2 linked regions of the Homo sapiens genome follow. The main gene of each other region encodes a partner of the protein of the gene in region 2 in a complex. Each region holds a gene or a part of one and is shown on either strand. Other genes may lie near its edges. The genes, in order: RHOA and RAP1GDS1.

Evidence for each region.
Region 1: the proteins of RAP1GDS1 (region 2) and RHOA are in contact, whole or in part, in a crystal structure (PDB 5ZHX), measured with the Homo sapiens proteins. Residues at the interface, in NP_001093897.1 of Homo sapiens: Arg111, Tyr118, His121, Ser171, Glu200, Met201, Val204, Asn208, Glu211, Leu212, Glu213, Ala249, Glu253, Lys290, Thr291, Asp294, Leu295, Val297, Leu298, Leu301, Asp303, Leu334, Leu338, Ala341, Asn342, Ala344, Arg345, Asn346, Asp347, Cys350; in NP_001300870.1 of Homo sapiens: Ala3, Ile4, Arg5, Lys6, Asp13, Lys18, Lys51, Asp65, Tyr66, Asp67, Arg68, Leu69, Arg70, Pro71, Leu72, Ser73, Tyr74, Lys98, Trp99, Pro101, Glu102, His105, Phe106, Leu179, Cys190, Leu191.

The regions. Positions count from the first base shown.
Region 1 is NC_000003.12:49,359,717-49,370,223, reverse strand, and holds part of RHOA (transforming protein RhoA isoform 1 precursor), read left to right. Parts: intron 1-1,675; coding exon 1,676-1,796; intron 1,797-7,597; coding exon 7,598-7,728; intron 7,729-9,157; coding exon of another isoform or gene 9,158-9,296; intron 9,297-9,841; coding exon 9,842-10,015; 3' UTR 10,016-10,507. UniProt on the Homo sapiens protein: Small GTPase which cycles between an active GTP-bound and an inactive GDP-bound state.
Region 2 is NC_000004.12:98,255,548-98,266,188, reverse strand, and holds the start of RAP1GDS1 (rap1 GTPase-GDP dissociation stimulator 1), read right to left. Parts: upstream 4,806-10,641; 5' UTR 4,624-4,805; coding exon 4,620-4,623; intron 1-4,619. UniProt on the Homo sapiens protein: Acts as a GEF (guanine nucleotide exchange factor) for the Rho family of small GTP-binding proteins (G proteins) that stimulates the dissociation of GDP to enable subsequent binding of GTP.

The sequences.
Region 1 (10,507 bases), on a different chromosome or scaffold from region 2:
CTAGGCTGCAGTGCAGTGGCACAATCTCTGCTTACTGCAACCTCCGCCTCCCGGGCTCAAGCAGTCCTCCCACCTCAGTCTCCCAAGTAGCTGGGACTACAGGCGTGCACCACCACAGTCAGCTAATTTTTTTTTTTTTTTAAATGGAGTTTCGCTCTTGTTGGCCAGGCTGGAGTGCAGTGGTGCAATCTCAGCTCATTGCAACCTCCACTCATTGCAACCTCCGCCTCCTGGGTTCAAGCGATTCTCCTGCCTCAGCCTCCTGAGTAGCTGGGATTACAGGCATGCTTCACCACGCCCAGCTAATTTTGTATTTTCAGTAGAGATGGGGTTTCTCCACATTTGTCAGGCTAGTCTCGAACTTCCGACTTCAGGTGATCCGCCCGCCTTGGCCTCCCAAAGTGCTGGGATTACAGGCGTGAGCCACCGCACCCAGCCCACACTCAGCTAAGTTTTATTTTATTTATTTTTTTTTTTTTTAGAGATGGAGGCTCGCTTTGTCGCCCATGCTGGAGTGCTGGAGTGCAGTGGCACGATCTTGGCTCACTGCAACCTTTGCCTCTCGAGTTCAAGCAATTCACCTGCCTTAGCCTCTCCAGTAGCTGGGACTACAGGCGCACGCTGCCGTGCCTGGCTAATTTCTTTCGTATTTTAGTAGGGACGGGGTTTCACCATGTTGCCCAGGCTGGTCTCGAACTCCTGAGCTCAGGCAGTCAGCCCGCCTCAGCCTCCCAAAGTGCTAGGATTACAGGCATGAGCCACCGCGCCTGGCCACACTCAGCTAATTTTTAAGGTGTTTTTGTAGAGGTGGGTTCTCAGATTTTCAATTTTGAGAAATTTCAACCTAAAATAATTTAAATATACTCTCATTTGAGCTTGATGCTCATAAAAGTGAATACTCGGCCGGGTGTGGTGGCTCATGCCTGTAATCCCAGCACTTTGGGAGGCCGAGGCAGGCGGATCACGAGGTCAGGAGATCAAGACCATCCTGGCTAACATGGTGAAACCCCGTCTCTACTAAAAGTACGAAAAATTAGCCAAGCGTGGTGGCGGGCGCCTGTAGTCCCAGCTGCTCAGGAGGCTGAGGCAGGAGAATGGCATGAACCCGGGGGCAGAGCTTGCAGTGAGCCAAGATCTTGCCACTGAACTCCAGTCTGAGCAACAGAGTAAGACTCCGTCTCAACAAAAAAAAAAAAAAAAAAAAAAAAAAAAAAAAAGGCCAGGCGCGGTGGGTCACGCCTGCAATCCCAACACTTTGGGAGGCCGAGGCGGACGGATCATGAGGTCAGGAGATCCAGACCATCCTGGCTAACACAGTGAAACCCCGTCTCTACTAAAAATACAAAAAATTAGCCGGGTGTGATGGCGGGCACCTGTAGTCCCAGCTACTTGGGAGGCCAAGGCAGGAGAATGGTGTGAACCCGGGAGACGGAGCTTGCAGGGAGCAGAGATCGCGCCACTGCACTCTAGCCTGGGCGACAGAGCAAGACTACATCTCAAAAAAAAAAAAAAAAAAGAAAAAAGAAAAAATGTAAATACTCCTGTGTTTTACTGTTTTAGACCGTCTGCCATTTCAATGGTCTGCCATTTCAATGTACTATGGTAAGTGTCACTTTTTCTAAAAGTGGGTGGGGGGATTAACCTTGCACTCTTGTGGTTGTTTTTCCCATTACAGGTAGAGTTGGCTTTGTGGGACACAGCTGGGCAGGAAGATTATGATCGCCTGAGGCCCCTCTCCTACCCAGATACCGATGTTATACTGATGTGTTTTTCCATCGACAGCCCTGATAGTTTAGGTGAGTGGCCCTGCACCCTGATATTTGTCACTGCCTGTGTAGCTAGTTGGCATCTGGTTTCTGGGCATCAAGTGGCTGAAAAGCAGACATGAACTTCAGAGAAGCAATCATCGTCAGTGGCCGGAGTCCTGGAGTTTGGGATTGTAGAGCGTGGGCCTTGGGTCCCTTTCAGCCTAGGTCTCCCATGGGTACTGTATTTAAAATGTATCCACCTAGGCAGGGCACGGTGCCTGACACCTATAATCCCTGCGCTTTGGGAGGTCCAGACGGGTGGATCACCTGAGGGTCAGGAGTTCAAGACCAGCCTGGCCAACATGGTGAAACCCCGTCTTTACTAAAAGTACAAAAAAATTAGCCAGGCATGGTGGTGCACGCCTGTAGTCCCAGGTACTTGGGAGGCTGAGGCAGGAGAATCGTTTGAACCTGGTAGGTGGAGATTGCAGTGAGCCGAGATTATGGCACTGCATTCCAGACTGAGCAACAGAGCAAGACTCTATCTCAAAAATAATAATTATTATTATTATTACTAAATAATATTAAATGTTATTTAAAAATCTAACTGCCTTGTAAACTAGATGAATTCCAGATACAAAGATGAGTAAACTAAGGCTGGTGCGGCGGCTGACACCTGTAATCCTAGCACTTTGGGAGGCCGAGGCTGGCAGATCACCTGAGGTCAGGAGTTTGAGACCAGCCTAGGCAACATGGTGAACCCCTTGTCTCTACTAAAATACAAAAATTAGCTGGGTGTGGTGGCGTGCACTTGTAATCCCAGCTATTCCAGGGGCTGAGGCAGGAGAATCACTTGAGCCTGGGAAGCAGAAGTTGCAGTGAGCCAAGATCATGCCACTGTACTGCAGACTCCATCTCCCAAAAAAAAAGATGAGCAAACTAGATGAGTTCCAAATGTAAAGCCATCTCTTTTGGGGAAAGACTTTCTTTTTTTTGGTTGCCCTGTCTTAGCCTTTTTCTGAAGTGTCTTAGCTGATAGAAGCTTGAATGTGATCATTTCATTAGCCTAAACACAGCCACATAATTCAGAAGTCAGTAAGTCAGTATTCTTTTTTTTTTTTTTTTTTTTTTTTGAGAGGGAGTCTTGCTCTGTCTCCCAGGCTGGATTGCAGCAGCTTGATCTCAGCTCACTGCAAGCTCTGCCTCCTGGGTTGATGCCATTCTCCTGCCTCAGCCACCCAAGTAGCTGGGACTACAGGTGGCCACCACCACGCCCGGCTAATTTTTTGTATTTTTTAGTAGAGATGGGATTTCACCACGTTAGCCAGGATGATCTTGATCTCCTGACCTCGTGATCCGCCTGCCTCGGCCTCCCAAAGTGCTGGGATTACAGGCGTGAGCCACTGCGCCTGGCCCAGAAGTCAGTATTCTTTAGAAAAAGACTGAAGAATGCTAACCTGACATTCTGTGAAACCAGGCTTGAAAAAACTTGCTTTAGGTTTGTGCTGAAGATGATGAGGTATCTATTAATAAACTTGTGCTGCAGCCCTCCCTGTCATGACAGGGCAGCAGGTGGGTCAAGGATGTTGTCGTCATTACCACAAACAGCCTTTGAGGGTCTGCTTGTGGCCTCGGGTTGCCTGGATAGTTAGTGTTAGAGTGATTGTGTTGTTATGGTTGTCCCTACCTTAATGATGATAACTGGGGTTGCTCCAAGATATTGAGCCACTTGTTTAAGGTCATGCTGGCCCAAGGAGCTGAGCTAAGATTGAGTCCTCTGTGCAGTATGTCCCAGGACAGAGAAAGAGCACGTATTCCATGCCGTTGGTTCACTTAGATCATTTTCAGCAGTTATGATTGATTGATTGATTTAGAGGCGGGGTCTCGCTCTGTTGCCCAGGCTGGAGTTGAGTGGCACAATCTTGGCTCACTGCAACCTCCGCCTTCCAGGTTCAAGCAAATCTCCTGTCTCAGCCTCCCAAGTAGCTTGGACTACAGGCATACGCCCCCACGCCTGGGTGATTTTTGTATTTTTAGTAGAGACCGGGTTTCTCCGTGTTGGCCAGGCTTCTCTCAAACTTCTGACCTCTGGTGATCCACTCACCTTGGCCTCCCAAAGTGCTGGGATTACAGGTGTGAGCCACCACACCCAGCCTAGTTTTGGTTTTCAAACTAATATGACTTCCTTTTGTGAAGCTGCTGGAAGGCCCTGGAGGCTGGGCAGAGCTTTAGGCCACAGAGAAAATTTGAGCTAGTTGACACTCTCCTATCAGATACACACATAAATAACTTCACCTAGATCCTATTGGAATGAGAAGGACTGTGTGCCTTTGCCCTCGTTATCTAGTGTATAATTCTTGAGGGAAAAAACTGCCTCCAGAGCAAAACATTTTGTCTCTTCAGTCTCACTTTTTTCTTTTTGAGACAGGGTCTCGCTTTCTTGCCCAGTCTTGAGTGCAGTTGCAGATTCAGTTTACTGCTGCCTCGACCTCCTGGGCTCAAACAATCCTCCCATCTCAGTCCCCACCCAGTAGTTGGTACTACAGGCACACACTGCTGCGCTTGGTTAATTTTTATATTTTTTAGGCCGGGCATGGTGGCTCACGCCTGTAATCCCAGCACTTCGGGAGGCTGAGGTAGGCGGATCACCTGAGGTCAGGAGTTCGAGACCAGCCTGGCCAACATGGTGAAATCCTGTCGCTACTAAAAATACAAAACTTAGCCAAGTATGGTGGCATGTACCTGTAATCCCAGCTACTCAGGAGGCTGAGGCAGGAGAATTGCTTGAACCTGGGAGGCAGAGGTTGCAGTGAGCCGAGATCGCATCACTGCACTCCAGCCTAGGTGACAGAGTGAGACTCTTGTCTCAAAAAAAAAAAAAAAAAAAGTTTGAAAATTTATTCACCAAAAGTGGCGACAGTCAATTTATTCAAATTCTATGTACCTCAAACTCCAGGAAGGGGGTAGACTATTGGTATAATTTCACATATTCAGGAAATAACTACAGCACCTACTAACAGAACATCTATTCTAGGCCAGGCACTGTGGCTCACACCTGTAATCCCACCACTTTGGGAGGCCAAGGTGGGTGGATCCTGAGGTCAGGAGTTCAAGACCAGCCTGTCCAACATGGTGAATCCCTGTCTCTACTAAAAATACAAAAAAATCATCCGGGCGTGGTGGCGAGTGCCTGTAATCCCAGCTACTCGGGAGGCTGAGGCAGGAGAATTGCTTGAACCCGGGAGGCAGAGGTTGTAGTGAGCTGAGATTGCGCCACTGCGCTCCAGCCTGGGCGACAGAGCAAGAGTCCATCTAAAAAAAAAAAAAAAAAACTTCTGTTCTAGATGAGGGAAGACAGAATAGGCTCCCCTCAATGCCCCCAAAAAAGTAAATCAGAAAATAACAACAGTAAACCCAGTAACAGTAAATATTACAAATAACATTTGTAGAGGTGGGTCATGGTTGTATGCTGTTTTGTTTTATTTATTTTTATTTTTGTTTTTTTGAGACAGACTTTTGCTCTTGTCACGCAGGCTGGAGTGCAATGGTGCGATCTCAGCTCACTGCACTCCGCCTCCCGGGTTCAAGCACTTCTTCTGCCTCAGCCTCCCAAGTAGCTGGGATTACAGGCATGCACCACCATGCCTGACTAATTTTTGTATTATTAGTAGAGACAGGGTTTCAACATGTTGGCCAGACTGGTCTCAAACTCCTGATCCACCTGCCTCGGCCTCCCAAAGTGCTGAGATTACAGGCCTGATGAGCCACTGCACCTGGTCTATTTATTTTTATTTATTTATTTATTTATTTATTTTGAGACGGAGTCTCGCTCTGTCGCCCAGGCTGGAGGGCAGTGGCACGATCTTGGCTCACTGCAACCTCCACCTCCCTGGTTCAAGGAATTTCCCTGCCTCAGCCTCCCTAGTAGCTGGGATTACAGGTGTGCACCACCATGCCCAGTTAATTTTTTTGTTTTGTTTTGTTGTTTTTGAGACGGAGTTTCGCTCTTGTTGCCCAGGCTGGAGTGCAATGGCACGATCTCGGCTCACTGCAACTTCCGCCTCCCGGGTTCAAGCGATTCTCCAGCCTCAGCCTCTCAAGTAGCTGGGATTGCAGGCATGTGCCACCACGCCCAGCTAATTTTGTATTTTTAGTAGAGACGGGGTTTCTCCATGTTGGTTATGCTGGTCTCCCAACTCCCGACCTGAGGTGATCCACCCGCCCCGGCCTTCACAGTGCTGGGATTATAGGCATGAACCACTGCGCCTGGCAATCTTTTTGTATTTTTAATAGAGATGGGGTTTCACCATGTTGGCCAGACTGGTCTCGAACTCCTGACCTAACGCGATCCACCTGCCTCAGCCTCTCAAAGTTTTGGGATTATAGACGTGAGCCACTGCGCCCAGCCTATTTATTTGTTTTTAAGAGATGAAGTCTCACTTTGTCACCCTGGCTGGAGTGCAGTAGTAGCGTGATCATAGCTCACTGCTACCTTGAATCCTGGACTCCAGTGATCCTCCCACCTCAGCCTCTCAAGTAGGTGGGAATGCAGGCACATGTACCACTGTAAACTGCTAAGTTTTTGTATGTTTTTGTGGAGATGGGGTTTTTGACTTTTTTGATACAGAGTCTCACTCTGTTGCCCAGGCTGGAGTGAGTGTAGTATTGCGATCTCGACTCATCACAACCTCCACCTCCTGGGTTCAAGTGTTTCTTCTGCCTCAGCCTCCCAAGTAGCTGGGACTATAGGTGCACACCACTGCGCCCGGCTAATTTTAGTAATTTTAGTAGAGATGAGGTTTCGCCATGTTGGCCAGGCTGGTCTCGAACTCCTGACCTCTGGTGATCCACCCACCTAAGCCTCCCAAAGTGCTGGGATTACAGGCACGAGCCACCACGCTGTCTGGAGATGGGGTTTAGCCATGTTGCATAGGCTGTTCTTGAGCTCCTAGGCCCAAGCTGTCTACTTGCCTTAGCCTCTCAAAAGTGCTGGAATTACAAGTATGAGTCACCACGCCCAGCCTCTTTTGGTTATTTTCAAAAGTCACTTTTTTTTATTTGAGACGGAGTCTTGCTCTGTCGCCCAGGAGTGCAGTGGCGCGATCTCAGCTCATGGCAAGCTCTGCCTCCCGGGTTCACACCATTCTCCTGCCTCAGCCTCCTGAATAGCTGGGACTACAGGTGCCCACCACTACACCCGGCTAATTTTTTTTGTATTTTTAGTAGAGACGGGGTTTCACTGTGTTAGCCAGGATGGTCTCGATCTCCTGACCTCATGATCCGCCCACCTTGGCCTCCCAAAGTGCTGGGATTACAGGCATGAGCCACCGCTCCCGGCCAAAAGTCACTCTTCAGCCATTTGAAATACCAGTAAACCCCATAGGGTAGAAGTTATGCTGAGAGTTGATGAACAAGTTAGAAAAAGAACATGTGGACCCTGGGTCAGCTGCTGCCCTAGAATGGGGACCCCTTCTGTAAGCTATGTCAGAATCATCTACCAGCAGTGACAGATGTCCTGTAAAGTGCCTGCCTTTGTGGGGCAGGAAGTGCCCCCCGTGAAACTACCTTGTGTTGTGGATCTTTTGCTCCTCCAGAGCCCTTACTCGGGCCCCACCTACAGAGATGCTCAGCACCACTCTTGGCTGGACTGAGAAAAAGCTGTTGGTTCTCTGTTTAAAGGAAAGGGATTATATTTCCTTTTTATGGTTTTGAAACTAGTGAGTTTCATTAAATGTCTAGCATTTTTCTGAAGCCACAAAGAAAGTGTCTCTGCAATTTCACTGAGGTTCTTGGAAAGTCTTCAAGATAGAATTGTATGTATCCCCAAATTCTCTACATTTTTCTTTCAGAAAACATCCCAGAAAAGTGGACCCCAGAAGTCAAGCATTTCTGTCCCAACGTGCCCATCATCCTGGTTGGGAATAAGAAGGATCTTCGGAATGATGAGCACACAAGGCGGGAGCTAGCCAAGATGAAGCAGGCATGATCTGGGGCAGGACTGTCTTGTAGTATTCTTGAACTAGGGCCCCAAGTTTGGAGGTTTGGGGAGCCCAGCAGGAACCTTCACAGGCCAGGTTGTTTTAGAGGCTCAGAAGCCCCTCTGTGGCCCTCTGACCCTCATTAATTGGGATCTTCACAGAAGATCCCTAAGATAGTTCACCAGTCCTGTGAGATGGAATGTTTTTTTATGAGGTAGTGCTATGCCCATAAGGACTGCTGGCCTGAGAATGAACCATTTCATTAGTAGCTAGTAATCAGTGGCTCTAGATGTAGGAACTTTCTTTTTTTTGATATGGAGTCTCATTCTGTCACCCAGGCTGGAGTGCAGTGGCGCAATCTCAGCTCACTGCAACCTCCGCCTCCGGGGTTCAAGCGATTCTTCTGCCTCAGACTCCCGAGTAGCTGGGACTACAGGCACCCTCCACCATGACCGGCTAATTTTTTTTTTTTTTAATAGATGGGGTTTCACCCTGTTGGCCAGGCTGGTCTTGAACTCCTTACCTCAAGTGATCTGCCCACTTTTGCCTCCCAAAGTGCAGGGATTACAGGTGTGAGCCACTGTGCCTGGCCTCTGTTAGACTCTTTATTTTTATTTTTTGAGACACAGTTTTGCTTTTGTCACCCAGGCTGGAATGCAGTGATGCTATCTCGGCTGCAACCTCAGCCTCCAAGGTTTAAGTGATTCTCCTGCCTCAGCCTCCCAAGTTGCTGGGATTACAGGCATGTGCCACCACGCCTGGCTAATTTTTGTATTTTTAGTAGAGACGGGTTTTCTCCATGTTGGTCAGGCTGGTCTCAAACTCCTGACCTTAGGTGATCTGCCCGCCTTGGCCTCCCAAAGTGCTGGGATTACAGGTGTGAGCCACCACGCCCGGGCCTGTTAGACTCTTGATTGCCTTCCCCAGCTATTACTTTGGTACATGTGAGGCCAAAGATAAATTAGTGGCAACTGAAAGATAAGGAAATCTTGAAGGCTGGGAGTCCAGATAGAAAGCCCTAATGCCTTCCCTCTCCTCCACTCCCAATGCCTTTTTAAAAGTGATGATGGATGTGGCATCTTGGCCTCTCAGAAACCAGCTGGCCTAATGGCAGGGCTTCCTCACTGGAGGAGAAGCATTGAGATCTTCAACCTAAGTTCTCTTACTCAGGTTTCTCTGTCTGAATGTCAAGGGTAGGCTTTATTTCCTTCAGGGCATTTAGTCCTGGATTGGTAGCTTGAGTAATTTTGCTCTTGATTGACTCCTTAACCTTCCAGGGCTCCTCTGACCTCTTCCCTCTACTTCCCAGTGAATACCATGTTTATTAGAGATTTTATGTTTGGTAGGGGGTAGTTACCATATGTCAGTTTAAAAATTTCATAAGTTTAGCAGTTTGTTGTTTTTTTTTTTTGTTTTGTTTTTTTTGAGAAGGAGCCTCACTGTGTCGCCAGGCTGGAGTGCTGTGGCACGATCTTGGCTCAACTGCAACCTCCGCCTCCCAGATTTAAGCGATTCCCCTGCCTCAGCCTCCTGAGTAGCTGGGGTTACAGGCGCCCACTACCACACCCAGGTGATTTTTTGTATTTTAGTAAAGAGGGGTTTCACCATGTTGGCCAGGATGGTCTTGATCTCCTAAACTCGTGATCCGCCCAGCTCAGCCTCCCAAAGTGCTGGGATTACAGGTGTGAGCCACCACACCCAGCCAAGTTTAACAGCTTTTGAAAGTCTTTTTTTTTTTTAGGCTGGGTACAGTGGCTCATGCCTGTATCCCAGCACTTTGGGAGGCCGAGGTGGGCAGATCACTTGGTCAGGAGTTCGAGACCAGCCTGGCCAAAATGGTGAAACCCCATCTCTACTAAAAAATTACTTGGGCGTGGTGGTGGGCACCTGTAGTCCCAGCTACTCGGGAGGCTGAGGCGGGAGAATCCCTTGAACCCAGGAGGTGGAGGTTGCAGTCAGCTGAGATCATGCCATTGCCCTCCAGCCTGGGCGACCGACGAGCAAAACTGTCTCAAAAAAAGAAAAAAAAATCTTTTAGATGAATTTGAATACTTTTTACTTACTATATGTATGCCACACTATTAGCTAAAAGGACTATTTTTTTTTCTTTGCTAGGAGCCGGTGAAACCTGAAGAAGGCAGAGATATGGCAAACAGGATTGGCGCTTTTGGGTACATGGAGTGTTCAGCAAAGACCAAAGATGGAGTGAGAGAGGTTTTTGAAATGGCTACGAGAGCTGCTCTGCAAGCTAGACGTGGGAAGAAAAAATCTGGGTGCCTTGTCTTGTGAAACCTTGCTGCAAGCACAGCCCTTATGCGGTTAATTTTGAAGTGCTGTTTATTAATCTTAGTGTATGATTACTGGCCTTTTTCATTTATCTATAATTTACCTAAGATTACAAATCAGAAGTCATCTTGCTACCAGTATTTAGAAGCCAACTATGATTATTAACGATGTCCAACCCGTCTGGCCCACCAGGGTCCTTTTGACACTGCTCTAACAGCCCTCCTCTGCACTCCCACCTGACACACCAGGCGCTAATTCAAGGAATTTCTTAACTTCTTGCTTCTTTCTAGAAAGAGAAACAGTTGGTAACTTTTGTGAATTAGGCTGTAACTACTTTATAACTAACATGTCCTGCCTATTATCTGTCAGCTGCAAGGTACTCTGGTGAGTCACCACTTCAGGGCTTTACTCCGTAACAGATTTTGTTGGCATAGCTCTGGGGTGGGCAGTTTTTTGAAAATGGGCTCAACCAGAAAAGCCCAAGTTCATGCAGCT
Region 2 (10,641 bases):
ATTATCCTTAGACATGAAAACAGCACATGTCCTTCCATGTAAAATGTAACATTAAAATAATTTTTTTAATTTGTAAATTAAAATACATTTAAAATTTTAAAATATTTTCTAAAATGTAATATCTGTCATGCAGAGTGAGTTAAAAATATTTTTAAAAATCTATGTTTTCTCACAGATCTTTAAACAAGGTGAGAAATACAGCATGACTATACCTAGTGAACTGTTTCCACTTATTATTCACTTAGCCTTTACAACTGACCTCCATATCTACTAAACCTCTTAAAGTGGCTTTTTAGAAAAATATACTGGGTAATATCCTAACCAAAGCACTTAGAGCCTGTTCTCAGTCCCTATCACCCTCCTGACTGTTCTGAAAAAACAGACCTTATTAACTATTCACTCTTTCTTAAAACCAACCATATACCAATTCTAGTCTTTCACTCTGACTTCTGTGTTTTTCAGTGTGAAATCATACCATTCCTTTTTCCCTAACTACGGAAAACTTAAGGAACCCCATTCCTCAAGATTCTTACCATGAACAATTTTCCTCTTTTTCTTTGTTGACTCTTGTCCTCTGATCTAACTTCAAATATCACCTCAGGATATTTGTGGATAACTTCCAGATCTCTAATTCAAATTGTACTCTCGAAAGTTAAAATAAATGTTTGTCAACTATTTTTTATCTAGTTTCAGTCAGTCAACACAATTTTTCTATGTAGCTACTATGTGCCAGACACTAGTGTTAGAAATGTATTCAAATCCTAATATGACAACGTCCTTGTTATCAAGGAGCAGAGACTAAAGGACAGACCAAAAAGTCTAATGCAATAGGTCCAAAATTGAGTATCTAAGTTTCCTCTTCCTGTTAACTGAATATGTATCAGGAGATTCTCGTATCCTCATTATCACCCAGGCTAAAACCTGTGACTCTCAATTCCATACTCAATGGGTTGCCAAGTAAATCCTATTCTTTATTTGCAATATTCTATTCCCGTTGCCATAACCTGGTTCAAGCCATTAAACATTTTCGTCCAAACTCCAACAACAATCTTCTGAAGTGTTCTGTAGTTTCTCATCTAATCGATCCTGCACTCAACTGACAAATTTTCCTATACCACAGATGTGATCCATCACTTAACTACATAAAAATGTTTAGTGGTCTCTCAATAGGTAAGTCAGATTAAAATTCTTCAGCTTGGCATTTTAGATCCTACATTATCTGGTCATTAGCTATTACTGTACTACTTTTTCATGTCTGTTACCCACTATTTCCTTACCTTTTGCTCTAGCCAAACAATGCTGTTTAATCATATCCTGGAAATTCATAAAATGTTTCCTATCTATCTTCATTTATGTCATTTCTCTTCCAACCCCAGACCAACTCCATTCTGATTAACAGTCTCATTTCTACCTTTAAGAAGTTTAACCCACCTTTGGTTCAAATAACACCATTTCTCTAAAACGTTCTCTCCATTCTCTGAATCTATAATATATGTAAAGGTCTTTTATATAACTTATACTTTTACTTCTATTATAATTTGTGTATGTGTCATATTGTTCCTGCTAAGATTATAAATGTGAAACATGAATATCTTTTTATCTTTGTCCTCCCAGTACACTGTAGTACAGTACACTGCACAGTTGATATCCAACAAACACTAAATGTATGTTGAATCTGAAATATGACATATACATAAAATAGTAGCTATGGCCATAAAGTTATATAGGACTTTTCTTTCACTCTCTTGTGTAGGAAATTATTGCCATGAGAATATATATATATATTTTTTTTGAGACAGAGTTTCCCTCTTGTTGCCCAGGCTGGAGTGCAATGGCATGATCTCGGCTCACTGCAAACTCCGCCTCCCGGGTTCAAGTGATTCTCCTGCCTCAGCCTCCCAAACAGCTGGGATTACAGGCGCCCGCCACCACACCCGGCTAATTGTTTTTTTGTATTTTTAGTAGAGACAGGGTTTTACCATGTTAGTCAGGCTGGTCTCCAACTCCTGACCTCAGGTGATCCGCCCGCCTCGGCCTCCCAAAGTGCGCGCCCGGCTGAGACTATCTTTAAAAATCAACCTTATTTATTTCTTGAGACAAATTAAAAAGCACTTCTCCCTCCCCTCATCATTAACCAGTATACCTTCTACCTTCTTATGTGTACATGAATTGTTATACTAACTTCCTTGGCCCAGATATAAAACTGTTCCCCAAGGTTTCAATTTTAAATTATCATATGTACCTACTGATCATACATGAAACTGCCTTACCATTGAAGAGAGTTTAGAAGGAAACAGATTGCCTGAGGTTGACTCAAAACCAACCTACAGTGTACTGGGAGGCATGGTACAATTATACCTTTCTGTTTCTGCTTATCCCCCAACTAGATAATATGTACCAACCCAAATGTTTGTTCAGATGAAGACTATATCTTCAGGTTCAAAAGTTGAAAATAATAGGTGGCTTTAAGTTCAACAATTTGCCAAAGATTTACTGAATTTCTATTTGAAAAGCACTGTGGGGAACACAAAAAATAATAAGACACTTTTCATCTTCTGGGACTCATGATTAAATGCACAGCACACACATAAACAACTTTATTATATGGTAGATTACGTAAGTGCTAAAAAGCTTCTAACAAGGTACAAACAGTGCTTATGAAGAGACAGATTAACCAAAGAGTATCAGAGATGGCTTCAAAATGAGAGATAGGTTTCTATTTGGCCCTTTTTAAAAATCAAGCAATAGCACTCAAGATTTTGAAGATTATTTTTAAGTAGATAATTTCTTTTAGGTATTTTTATTCACCAGTGTTGTAACGGAATTGGATTTTTTCCACTGAAAAAGTACGGATTTAACATGTAAGCTAAAATGTTAAATGGATTGTTTAAGGCTCACCTGGAAACATGGGAAAATATATTTTGCAAGCCAAACTTGAACTTACAGTCCAATATCAGATAGGGTTATTGGACATACTGTATATTTCCTTTGAACATACACACACTTATCTGTGTATGTATGTTCAAAGGAATTTTATTTCAAAGTGTATTTTATCTGTGTATGTTCAAAGGGAACACACATAAACGTGTGTATGTTCGACGGAAATATACAGCTTGTCCAATAATCTGATATAATACCTATTTAAAAATCTACTTTAAGAGAAAGGCAGACACGCATAAATGGGCCACCCAATTTTTACAGAAATTTGTTCAGCATATCGAGTACTCACGTTAAAAAGAAAAAACAACTGAAAATAAAATTCAGAGCCCTAGACCTTTTTTGATTCATACCACCTCCTCCGTCAACCCTGGCCTCTTCCAGATATATGGCCAAAGGTCGGGATCAAAGCCTGAAGCATTTGCTGTTCCAGAAAACTCTATGGACACCATTCCCAGGTTTAGATACTTCTTGAAGATTCTGAGTTGCACCACCTAACTCTGAACGTGTTGAGCACTGTATTAACAGATGAAAGGACCACATTCATCTCAAGCTTTAAATAACTCGCACAGAAGGGGTGGGAAAAGTCCCAGCTGACAGATGCCAAGGGAGCAAATTTTAAAAAGAGGAAATTATGACAGACAGGAGTGGAAGCAAACTGGGGAACTTAGTACAAGTCGCTACTATTAAAAGAAACTTTGAGCTCTTAATTACATGACAGCATTCATCAGACGTTTCTGTGATTACTGAATGTAACAGTTAAGCAATAGATGATGTAAAAAAATTAGGTCAAATGTATATATCGTTTTATAAAACATATTTGCTCTTAAATCTCTCATCCAAACCAATCTCTTCAGATTAACTATAAATACAAAGGAACTAAAATCAGATTATGCAGATTAGACAGGAGGAAGCTGGGAAAGAATAACTACCATGTAAGTTCGGTAACAACGTTACAGGGCGCAGTTTCCTGCTACAGAAGACGGACGAAGGAATCCAGAAAATAGGCTGGGCACGGGAATATTGCACACTGTAGTCACCCAGCACTAATTCAACAGCTAGCGGCTCTATCCTGCCTCACGTTCCTCGTGGCCTCTGACAAGTCATCCTTTCAACCTATGAGGCTGTCCGCTCTCCCCCTTGGAAAATAATTTCCGTGCAGGTTGTAAGATCTCCCTCACAAACTACTTGCTTCCACTTCCCCGCCCGGGATGAGGAGTCTCCACGACGGGGAAAGGTCGCACTGACAGAGAAGGAAGTTACACGAAGTGGTAGTGGTCGGACCCGAGCCTCGAGCTCAGTACACGCGGGGGAAAAGGAAGCGGGCGGCCTCTGGAGAAACGGGGATGGAGCTGCAGATGCGAGCCCGCGAGGCAGGCTCCGTGGTGCCCGGGCACCGGCAGGAAGAATGGAGGAGGGGAGGCGAGGCTGCGAGGTGCCGGGGAGCCGGGCGGCGGTCCGGCCCGCGGCCGACCCCACCCCAGCCCGCGCTCGGGACCCTCCCAGCCCCGGCACCCGGCGTGCGTTCCGCGTGCGCCGACTCTCCCCGGAGGAACAGCCACCGTCTCACACCCGGGGACTGGAGAAATCCGGCAACTTTGCGCGAGAAATGCTTCCCACCCTGCAGCACGCCGAGAAAGAAAAAAATGTCAGGCGATGACGGCGGAGGAAGGATGACTTACCCATGTTGCTCCCCGAGGGTGAGGAACCGGCGGGGCGAGGCGAAGGTCTGTGGTGCGGGCGGCGCGGCTCTGTGTCCTCCCTCTACCTCCGTCTCTCCCGCAGCCAGGGAGGGACCCGCGGGGGGCGGCCGCCGGGGAGGAGCAGCTGGTGCTGCTGCAGGCGGCGCGGCCGCGGCGGGGACGAGCGGCGGGGGGCGGGGCGGGGCGGGGCGGGGCGGGACTGGCGGGCGCAGCCTGCGGCGGGCGCGGCTCCGAGCGGGCGGGCGGCGGAGGCGCGGGAGCCGGCCTGAAGAGCTCCGGCCCCGACTCGCAGCCCACGAGCGCCCCGCCCTCCCCACCGAGCATGCTCAGTGCCTTTTCCACCCCTCCCTCTGTGGCGAGCGAGGCTAAGCGTGCGGGTGGGCGTGTGTTTGCAGACCGGCTGCAGCCGCGGCAGAGGATCTTCATGGCGGCCGCCTGAGAGGCGGAGGGCGGGCCCGGAGAAAACAGGGAATGGGGATATTGAGCCCGATCTGCTAGCAGAGGACTCACCGCTGCCTTGCTTTCCCACCCTGACCCACCAACCCCTCACCCGGAACCCGGGCTTGCCTTCTTTACGGGACGACCGGGCCGCACAGGCCGGAATTAACCGGAGAAGAGGCTGGGCCGCCGCAGAGCCGGGAGGGGTGGTGGGAAGCCAGAGCTGACGAAGTTGGAAAGGACGTGTAGGCGACTAGGCCTGCGCCTCTTGGGGACACCTGAGGACGCCCGCTGGGCAGCTGGCTGAGGAGGGGCCGCCGGGAGGGCGCTCGATAGCAGGCGTGTCATTGGGACACTTAAGGCTGCTCTAGCTGTGGCCAGCTTAGAAACAAAGGTCCCGGCAGCGAGGAGAGCGCCCGCCCCAGGATTTCCTCGAAGAGTGTGTCGTTCTCCCTCCCGGAGGAGCGCGGCCTTCCGTTCCCCGGAGGGCTCTGGAAAGGCCCTTTAACCGGGGTGCCGTCGGGCTCCATCCTGCTGTGAAAGCGGGAGGAACTACGTTCCCCAGGCTTGAAAATAAGCGTCCTGCTGGGTTGGCTGCGGCACTGCCAAAGCTAACCCGGCGGAGGTCCTTTGATCCCGGGGCCACCGCCCGCTCCCACCACCACCTCGGCCTCGGGGAGAACCTGAGCAGGGCTCTCCCACTGAGGGCGTCCTCCCGACTGGGCATGCACGTGAGGCCGGGGCTGGCTTCGGTCCTCTTCCCTGGGGTAGGAGGCTGGAGGAAACCGATTTCTCTGCACCCTAATCTTGCCCTGGCTCCTCCTGAGTGGGGTGAGGAATCTGGTCGCTCTCCAAGGCTACAGCGACCGGAGTCCTTCAGGGGACACTGTGCAGTCAGCAGTACAACCTGTTGGAGAAAGATGGCTGAATCGAGGTGTCTTTCCCCTGTCAACTTTCACTCGGTCAATCCAATGTTGAGAAAGGGCTTTTTTTGTTTGTTTGTTAATTAGTCGCCTATTCTCACAGTCATCAGTTTCTGCTTGGTGACTAGTATTTCGAGCACACAAATCAGAAGCGACCCTGTAATTTGTTAAGCAAAGAGCAGATTTTATGTGATTTTTCTACAGCAAGAAACGATAATTAAAAAGGTTTGGTAAAACAGGAAAATACAATTTAACTGCTGAAGTCAAATATATGGGACTTTTCTGATGCATGAGACTATCAGGCACCTCACTCTTAGGATGTTCTTCTTGTTTGCCTCTTAAAATAATCGCACTACATTAGTTCCCTAGGGCTGCCGTAACATACCACAAATTGGGTGACTTAAAACAACAAATTATTATCTCACAATTCTGGAGGCCAGAAGTTTGAAATCAAGGTGTAGGCAGGGCTGTACTCCCTCTGAGGGCACTGGGGAGGGATCTCGTCCATGCCTCTCCTAGCTTCTGGTAGTTTCTTGGCATATGGTAGCGTAACTCCAATCTGAACATGGCTGTTCTCCCAGTGTGCTTGTGTGTTCAAATTTCCCTTTTTAATAAGAACAGCAGTCATAACGGATTAGGGGCGAACCATCCTCCAGTATGACCTCATGGACGTTAATTATATCTGCAATGACCCTATTTCCAAATCAGGTCACATTCTAAGGGACTAAGGGTTAGGACTTCTACATATGAATAGGGCCAGCCTGGCCAACATGACGAAACCCCATCTCTAACTAAAAATACAAAAAATTAGCCAGGGCCAGGCACAGTGGCTCACGCCTGTAATCCTAACACTTTGGGAGGCTCAGGAGGGCAGATCACTTAAGTCAGGAGCTGGAGATCAGCCTGGCCAACATGGCAAAACCCTATTTCTACTAAAAAATAAATAAAATAAATAAATTAGCTGGGCATGGTGGCACGTGTCTGTAATCCCAGCTACTTGGGAGGCTGAGGCAGGAGAATCGCTTGAACCCGGGAGGCGGAGGTTGCAGTGAGCTGAGATTGCACCACTGCACTCCAGCCTGGGCCACAGAGCAAGACCCTGTCTCAAAAAAAATAAAAATAAAAAAAAAGAATCCGGGAGGGGTACACAATTCAACCCATAATACACCAATGCAGACCCCACCCTCAGGGCCCCTCACTGCCCCCACATCGGCCATGTTACACATTAATTTTATTACTCCTCCAGAAGACCAGCCTGGGCCTTTGCATTGCTGCTCATCATTTTTTGTTCATCTCTCCTTAACACTCATTAATCTCTTCCAGATTGTCAAGTTAACTTGCTTTATTTTTCCTACTTCCTTATCTAATTACATATTATAATAATTTCATGGAGTATCTTCTATCATTTATTTGGATGTAAGCGTTGAAATTAGCAAAAGCAGCTGAAGTGGCTTTCTCATTTCCCATCTGACACTAGTTAAAGTGCCTTTTTTGTTCTACTTCAATCTACAAGCCATCTCCTTAGCCTTCCTGCCAATTAAAACCAAAGGATTGTTCAGGCTTAGTGCATATACTGAGTCCTAATGCACCGGTGTTGTAACCATAGTGAGAACCAATACTGATTGTTATATGCAGAAGTGAATTACTTCCAGACTGGTATATTGCCTACTCCTTGCACACACAATGCCACCTCCCTTCCCCTCTCCTTTCTTGTTCTATTATAAGAATATAATGTTTCTGTCTCATATCTTTACTTTCTTCCTTTATGTCTTTATTCAAAAGTTACCTGCATGATGTCTTCCCTAGTTATCTTATCTAAAATTTCAACACTCCTTCCCATTTCATATCCCCACTTCTATACTTTATTTTTTTTCCTTAGCAGTTATCAATAAGATAATATATATTTTGCTTTTGGACTGTCTCCCACATTTAAATGTAAGTTCTCCTAGGGAAATAATTTTTGTCTGCTGTATTTACCATTATAACCCCCGTGCCTAAATAGTGCTAGCACATAGCAAGTGCTTAATAAAAATTTGCTAGGTATGGTGGCTCACACCTATAATTCCAGCACTTAGGGAGGCCGAGGAGGGAGGATCACTTGAGGTCAGGATTCTGAGAGCAGCCAGTACAAGATAGCAACACCTTATATCTACATCTCTTGACATCCCTGATGTCAAGAGACTCTTCCAAAATCGATCTACTAATACCCATACTGTATGTTAGGCAATGGTCAGGATTTTATCAGGCCTGCTACAAAACAAAGGAAGTTCTGGCCCAGTGCAAAGGTTTTCAACTTCAATCTAGGAAATGTCATATTTATAAAGTATCACGGATTTATTTGAATAACAATTTCTGTTGAAAATTGGTTTATGATTACTAAATAGCTGTTATGGGGGAGTATCAAGGAAAATGTCTTTTAGAAAAGATCAGAAGCAGTACATTTTGGCAAGACTTATAACTTACCTCATTGATGCATGTAAGCTTAAAGAGGTTAGAAGGTGATTTAAATTCTTTAGAGGAAATCTATTGGGAGGGGCAACACAACAAGAAGTGGAAAGAGAGGAGAGAATGTTCTTTAAAAGTATAATAGGGAACTGATTGCCTCCTGTTCACCATGATGTTCTGAATATCATTTAAGGGAATTTCACTGGAGTAGTTAATTGAACTTTGCGGTGATAGAAAATGATTTGGCAGTGAACAGCCTTCTGCCTAAACTGTTTATTTTTCAGAGACTTCATTGGTGAGATCAAGTTAGTCCAGGTTGAACAACTGAAATGTCTTAACCTCAATGTAACCTCTTTCTCCCCCGCTCTCCATTTATTTAATATTTTAGCCATTTTCTAAATGTTGTAAAATCTAAATTATTTTCATAGGCTGTCACCTCAAACTAATGTCTACATGTTTCAAGCAACAACAGACCTAGATTACATACAGTTTTTAGATGGGATATACCACTTTAAAATCAGTCATGTAGTTATTGAACATTTCTTCTGAGCTCAGCACTGTGCTAGATGCTATAAAAGAACAGCTATAAGGGCCAGGCGCGGTGGCTCATGCCTGTAATCCCAGCACTTTGGGAGGCCGAAGCGGGTGGATTACGAGGTCAGGAGATCGAGACCATCCTGGCTAACATGGTGAAACCCCGTCTCTACTAAAAATACAAAAATAAACCAGGCATGGTGGCGGGCACCTGTAGTCCCAGCTACTCGGGAGGCTGAGGCAGGAGAATGGCGTGAACCCGGGAGGCAGAGCTTGCAGTGAGCCGAGATCGTGCCAGTGCATTCCAGCCTGGGCGACAGAGCAAGACTTCGTCTCAAAAAAAAAAAAAAAAAAAAAAAGAAATAGCTATAAGTACATATCATGCAAAACAAGAGAGTAAGAACAATCTCTCTTAAAAGTCTCTTCCTACTAGTTAAAGATAGCTGTATAAGGAGAACATACCTGAAGAATGGATAGAATTTTTCCGAGAAAGGATGGGAAGAAAAGAATTTACTCCAAGACAGGGAAACAGCATGTGGTAAGACACCTATAGGCCATATTCATAAGACCATTAAAAAGGGTACATATTGGCCGGGTGCGGTTGCTCACACCTGTAATCCCAGCACTTTGGGAGGCCGAGGCAGGCGGATCACTTGAAGTCAGGAGTTCAAGACCAGCCTGGCCAACATAGCGAAACCTCTTCTCTACTAAAAATACAAAAATTAGCTGGGCGTGGTGGCGCGTGCCTGTGGTCCCAGCTACTTGGGAGACTGAGGCAGGAGAATCACTTTAACCCAGGAGGTGGAGGTTGCGGTGAGCCAAGATCACACCACTGCACTCCAGCCTGGGTGAGGGAGTGAGACTCTGTCTCAAAAAAAAAAAAACAAAAAAAAACCAAAAAACAAAAAAACGATGCAGGGATACTTATTGTGGCATCTTGAGAAATAAGATTAAAAATTTAGTATGAAGAACAGATTGTGAGGGGCTGAAAAAGCCAGCCAGAGGAATTTAAACTTGTTAAGTTAGGAAATAAACCATTGAAAGTTTCTTGAGAAATGGAATAGCATGGCGAAAACAGTATAGAAGGAGGAGAAATAGTGCATCAAAGAAAGTAATTTTTATTGTTATTTAATATTATAATTTTAGTAATTATTGTAATTTTTTCTTTTTCTTTTTTTCTTTTTTCTTTTTTTTTTTTTTTTTTTTGAGACGGAGTTTCATTCTGTTGCCCAGGCTGGAGTGCAATGGCAATCTTGGCTCACTGCAACCTCCACCTCCTGGGTTCAACGGATTCTTCTGCCTCAGCCTCCTGAGTAGCTGGGGCTACAGGCGCCCGCCACCACACCCAGCTAATTTTTGTATTTTTAGTAGAGATGGAGTTTCACCATATTGGCCAGGCTGGTCTCGAACTACTGACCTTGTGATCTGCCCGCCTCAGCCTCCCAAAGTGTTGGGATTACAGGTGTGAGCCACCGTGCCCAGCCGTAATTATTGTAATTTAAGTAACATTAAGAGATGCATCATTCTGTCTGGGAATTAGGTATACAGGGTGAATTTTTGGTCCTGAAAGAGTATAGTGATAGAGACAGACATGTAAATAGTTAAAATATAGTGCTACAACTACCACAATGGGGTAGTGTGGAAGAATATGGGTATAACAT